2 separate regions of the Homo sapiens genome follow, and region 2 is linked to region 1. Evidence: fine-mapped expression QTL. A gene starts in region 1. The other region holds a variant in brackets. All regions are shown on one strand. Distances are from middle to middle. Region 1 holds the start of HOMER3 (homer scaffold protein 3). Region 2 has its middle 25 kb from the start of HOMER3.

Region 1 (2,902 bases):
CCAGGTGTGGTGGCTCACGTCTGTAATCCCAGGACTTTGGGAAGCCGAGGGGGGCAGATCACTTGAGGTCAGGAGTTCGAGACCAGACTGGCCAACATGGTGAAACCCCATCTCTACTAAAAATACAAAAATCAGCCAGGTGTGGTGGCATGCACCTGTAGTCCCAACTACTCGGGAGGCTGAGGCAGGAGAATTGCTTGAATCTGGGAGGCAGAGGCTGCAGTAAGCCGAGATTGTGCCACTGCACTCCAGCCTGGGCAACAGAGTGAGACTTTGTCTCAAAAAAAAGAAAAGAAAAGAAAAGAAAAACTCAAATGTAAGATCAGAGCTTTAGGGCGCCACAGGCCTTGGTTCCAGGGAGCTGCAGGACCTCTGTCCACAAACGAACCAACGGCGCCGCACCGTGTGATTTTGGAGACGGTGCCAGAGAGGGGGCGGCACCAGGATTGACAAGTGGGACACATGGGCTTGGGGCTGGGGAGGTGGATCCTAGTTCAACTCCGGAAGGATGCTCTCCTGGCAAGTGTGGGAAGGGGGTGCTCCCTGTGACCAGAGGTGACAAACGCAGGCCAGTGGAGGCTGAGGGGATGCAACCATGCGTTGGAGACATTTCCTCAGCCTTTGGATTTTGGAACCCTCAAACAACAGCAAAGATAACCTTAATCCAACCATTGTGGGCATTTTTACCATCGTCTTGGGAGGGACAGAGGTGGACAGACGTCCCTGCTTAGGGATGGGACGGGCAGGGGAACAGAGGCTTCTCTCTCTTTGTCTTGCTTCCCGTTCCCTCCCGAAGTTGATCTCTTCCGTTTCCTGGCAACACCCATTGAGCACTTACTGTATGCAGACCCTGAGACCCACTGCCCCCTCCCCAACCTCACTGGGCCACCCATGTCAGCCCGGGAGGGACCTGACCTCCCTCACAGGCCCAAAGTTATGACCTCAGGTAGTGGGGACAGAGGCAGCTGTCTCCTGAGAAGGTGACAGGAGGGTGAGGTCACATCGCTGTCCGTGCAACTCTCTCCATCTGCTTCCTATCTCTCCGCCTGTCTCCCCCGTGTCTCTGTTTCTGGGTCTCTTTCTCATCCCAGATGTCCCTCTCCGTCTGTCTCTCTGTCCCCACCCTCTGCTCCCAACCCGACCCCACGCAACCCCCCCCCCCACTCCCCCTCCACCGCCCCTAACCCCCTCCCTCAATCCTCCGTCCCTTCCCCAGTCCCGGCCCCCGCCCCTCCCCCTTATCCCCTCCCCCATACCCTCTCCCAGTGCAAAAAGCCGGCAGGGGGCGCAGCGGGGCGGCCTTGGCGGCCCGGGGAGGCGGGGCGGGCGGCGGCCGCGTCGGGACCGGCCGCGATGGGACCGGAGGCGGCGCGGGCGGCGGCGGCGCAGACAAAGGCACGGGCGGCGTGGAGGGCGGCGCGGAGGGCGCGGGCCCGGGAGCCAGGGAGCGAGCGGGGCGCCCGGCAGCGCGGAGTCAGCGCCGCGGGGGCCGCACCCGACTCGCGCCTGGACACTCGCGGGGCGCCGACCTGGCAGGGTGAGCCCGGCCTGCCGAGCCTGCGCTGGGAGCGCGGGGGCCTCGAAGTCCCAGGGCCAAGGGGAGGGCGTGGGGGTTCCCCAGAAGTTTCGGACCCGGGACTGGGAGCGGCGCGAGGGGTCCCCAAGTTCCAGGGCTGGAGGGAGCGCGGGGGTCCCGAAGTTCTGGATTCAGGGTCTGAGAGGGGACTGCGTGGGAGGTTCCCAAAGTTCTGGACCCGGCGTTGGAGGAGGCTGCGAAGAGGTCCCCAAAGCTGCGGACCTGGGGTGGGGTACTGGGGTGGGAGGGGTCCGGACGTCCCGGACCCAGGGACTGGAGGGGTGGCAGGGGGTCCTCGAAGTTTAGGAGTCTAGGACAACGCGGAGGACCGGGGTCCCGGACCCAGTTAGAGGAGGAGTCACGAAGGGAGTCCCCGGAGTTACCGACCTGGGGTTGGAGGAGGCAGAAGAGGTGTCCCCCGAAGTTCTGGACCCAGAGACAGGGGGCGTCGCGGGAATCTCGGAAGTTCCAGGGTCAGAGCCCGCGTCCCGGAGTTGGGGCGTGCACTGGGTGTCCTGCCTCGGGTGGGGATGGGATCCTGAATTAATATTAACCCCCCCGTCCCCCGCACTCGGGTGCATGGGATGGGGCCTCATCCACCGGCCAGATTGGGGATCCCGGGCACCGGGCGGTGTCGGACCCCCCTCCGGGAGCCCCGTGGCCGGCGGCATCCGAGGCGCATGACTAGTTGGTGAGTAACTTTCCCCAAACGCTGCAAGTCGCAGCAGGAGCTGCCGGACCGGAAGGGCCTGGGTTCCGGGGACCCCTGTGTTCCCCAACTCCCACCCGGCGCAGGACCCGCCCCCAGTCCAGGCCAGAGCTGCCGCCCCACCCCCACTCAGGGGCTCCGGTTTCAGACCCTGTGACCAGGACAGCAGCTGCCCAGGACAGGATAGGGGGGGCATCCCCCCTTTGACCACAGAGGCCGCTGGGCCAGGGCCTCCCCTCCCCCACCTGTCTTCCCCCTCCTCCAAACTCCTCCTTGGTCCCCTGCAGATTCGGGGTTGCTGAATGGCCCAATGGGGAGGTTGGGGAGCCCTGGTCTCCCAGTGTGGATTCTGCTCTGCCCTCATGGTGGGCATTGGGATTGGCTGTTTGTCTACATCTTGTCTTTTTAACTTGGCTGGGGGCTCCCTGGGGATTTGGACTCTGGACTTCAAGGTGTGCTTCTGCCCTAGGGTGGGAGCTGCTGGGGGTGGGGTCCCTCTGCAGGGTGTAGTGGGGAACTGGTCTCCTGGTACTACACACCTCTCAACGCCCCATTTTTTGGTGGAGAGCCCCGCTCTGGCCAGTCATGGGTGAATGTGGTGGAAAGAACTCAGCAGA
Region 2 (2,902 bases), 25 kb before region 1:
TGCTTCCTTCCTGCAGGGATGGTGCAATATCCCCAACTGTCTACTGCCCGTTGTGACTTCACCTTCTTATACATTTATTTTTTATTTTTATTTTTTTATTTTCCTGCCTTATTCCAAGAGAGAAGGCTGCGTGTGCATTTCCGTCGGGGAGGTATTTGCCGAGGGGAAGTTCACAGTCATACCCATATCCAGAACCTTTGTGCATTGGGAGATGTTCCAGAGGAACTGCTCTGCCCTCCGGCCTGGTGGGGCAAACACCTGCTTACCCCAAAGCATCAGGATTGCAGGGGGCACAGCCAGGCTCCCAGGCCACTCTCAGAGCTGCCCAGTGCTCCCTAAGCCTCCCCAAATCAGAGAGAGAGTCCTCAAGCACTCAGAAAAATCTAGGAACCTCCCTAGGCTCCTCCTTCTGCCAACTTCTCATAGCCCTCCCAACCCAGGCAGCAGAACGTCTCTCCCTGGAGCCTGTTCCTGCTGACTGTTTTGTTTGTTTGTTTTTTGAGACAGAGTCTCTCTCTGTCACCCAGGCTGACTGGAGTGCAGTGGAACAATCTTGGCTCACTGCAACCTTTGCCTCCCAGGTTCAAGTGATTCTCCTTTCAAGTGATTCTCCTGTCTCACCCTCCCTAGTAGCTGGGATTACAGGCGTGTGCCACCACTCCCGGCTAATTTTTGTATTTTTAGTAGAAACGGAGTTTCACCATGTTGGCCAGGCTGGTCTCAAACTCCTGACCTCAGGTGATCCACCCACCTCAGCCTCTCAAAGTGCTGGGATTACAGACATGAGCCACCGTGCCCAGCTTTTTTTTTTTTTTTTTTTTTTTGAGTTGGAGTCTCGCCCTGTCACCCAGGCTGGAGTGCAGTGGTGCGATCTCAGTTTACTGCAACCTCCACCTCCTGGGTTCAAGTGATTCTCCTGCCTCAGCCTCCCAAGTAGCTGGGACTACAGGCACCTGACACCATGCCTGGCTAATTTTTGTGTTTTTAGTAGAGACAGGGTTTCACCATATTGGCCAGGCTGATCTCGAACTCCTGACCTCAGGTGATCTGCCCGCCACAGCCTCCCAAAGTGCTGGGATTACAGGCGTGAGCCACCATGCCTAGCCCCTGCTTATTGTTTGTTTGTTTTATAGAAATGGTGTCTCAATAAGTTGCCCAGGCCGGCCTCAAACTCCTGGCTTCAAGTGTTCCCTCCCACTGGAGTAGTGTTGTTGTCTGGGGTAAATACCCAAGATTTGTTGTCTCACAGGCCCGGAAAACTAGGACTCAGACATACAAAGAGTGAGGTTCAGAG[T/A]GGAAGTTTAATCGGTGAAAGAAAGAGAAGCGCTCTCTCTGCTGCAGAGAGAGGGATCTTGAACGGGTTTCCACTTCCTCAGTAAAAAGCAGTGAGTTTTATGGATGAGCTTAAGGAGGTGGTGTCTGATTTCCATAGGGCACAAAAGATTGGTTGGACCAGGTGTTTCATTTGCATAGGGTGTAAAAACCTGGTTAAGGCTATGTGTGTAATTTGCATAGGGTGTGAAAAGCTGGCCTTCCCATCCTAATCTTTTTTTTCTTTCTTTTCTTTCTTTTTTTTTTTTTTTTTTTGAGTCTCCCAGGTGGAGTGCAATGGTGCGATCTCAGCTCACTGCAACCTCTGCCTCCCTGGTTCAAGCAATTCTCCTGCCTCAACCTCCTGAGTAGCTGGGATTACAGGTGCCTGCAACCATGCCCGGCTAATTTTTTTAGTAGAGATGGGGTTTCACTATGTTGGCCAGGCTGGTCTCTTGGCCAGGCTGGTCTCAAACTCTGACCTCATGATCTGCTGCCTCATCCTCCCAAAGTGCTGTGATTACAGGCATGAACCACTGCGCCTGGCTTCTTAATCTTTTATTATGCAGATGAGTTCTCTAGCTGGCTGGCGCCATGTTGCCTGTTCATTTTTTTTTGTCGCCCAGGTTGGAGTGCAGTGGCTCGATCTTGGCTTACTGCAACCTCTACCTCCTGGGTTCCCGCGATTCTCCTGCCTCAGCTTCCTGAGTAGCTGAGATTATAGGCGCCCACCACCATGCCTGGCTAATTTTTGTATTTTTAGTAGAGACGGGGTTTCGCCATGTTGGCCAGGCTGGTCTCGAACTCCTGACCTCAGGTGATCCACCTGCCTCAGCCTCCCAAAGTGCTGGGATTTCAGGCATGAGCCACCGTGCCCAGCCAAACTAAAACCTGTTTCTTTACTGTACACGTAGTGACCAAAAAAAAGGGAAGCTGGAGCCCCCATGTTGAACATGCCAGGCCCTCAGGTGGCCCTTTTCCATTGACACAGCTGCTGGTATTCACCCCTGGAAGCTTCCCACTTGCTTATCCATGTCTGCAGCTCGATTTTTCAGGCTGTTTTTTGTTAGAAAAGAAATGAGTTGGCCGGGCGCTGTGGCTCACTCCTGTAATCCCAGCACTTTGGGAGGCCAAGGTGGGCAGATCACGAGGTCAAGAGATCGAGACCATCCTGGCCAACATGGTGAAACTCTGTCTCTGCTAAAAATACAAAAAATTAGCCGGGTGTGGTGGCAGGCACCTGTAATCCCAGCTGCTCGGGAGGCTGAGGCAGGAGAATCGCTTGAAGCCGGGAGGCGGAGGTTGCGGTGAGCCAAGCTCGCGCCGTTGCAATCCAGCCTGGGCAAAAAGAGCTAAACTCTGTCTCAAAAAAAAAAGAAAAAAAGAAAAGAAAAAAGAAATGAGTTGCGGCTGGGCACGGTGGCTCACGCCTGTAATCCCAAAACTTTGGGAGGCCGAGGTGGGTGAATCACAAGGTCAGGAGTTGAAGACCAGCCTGGCCAACATAGTGAAACCCCATCTCTACTAAAAATACCAAAATTAGCTGGGCATGGTGGCACATGCCTGTAATCCTAGCTACTTGGGAGGCTGA

What was found.
Region 2: its variant is fine-mapped to the expression of HOMER3 in whole blood (TOPMed, PIP above 0.99).

Annotation. Positions count from the first base shown.
Region 1 is chr19:18,939,686-18,942,587 of GRCh38, reverse strand. It overlaps HOMER3 (homer scaffold protein 3), which reads left to right and starts at 1,371. Exons shown (of 10, transcript NM_004838.4): 1 at 1,371-1,537. HOMER3-AS1 (HOMER3 antisense RNA 1) reads right to left here and starts at 2,334. Exons shown (of 3, transcript NR_134913.1): 1 at 1,964-2,334. RefSeq lists a silencer at 1,208-1,407.
Region 2 is chr19:18,965,000-18,967,901 of GRCh38, reverse strand. No RefSeq gene overlaps it. Among named protein-coding and RNA genes, the nearest start is that of HOMER3, 25 kb to the right of the region's middle. The variant T/A (reference allele first, on the strand shown) is at 1,295.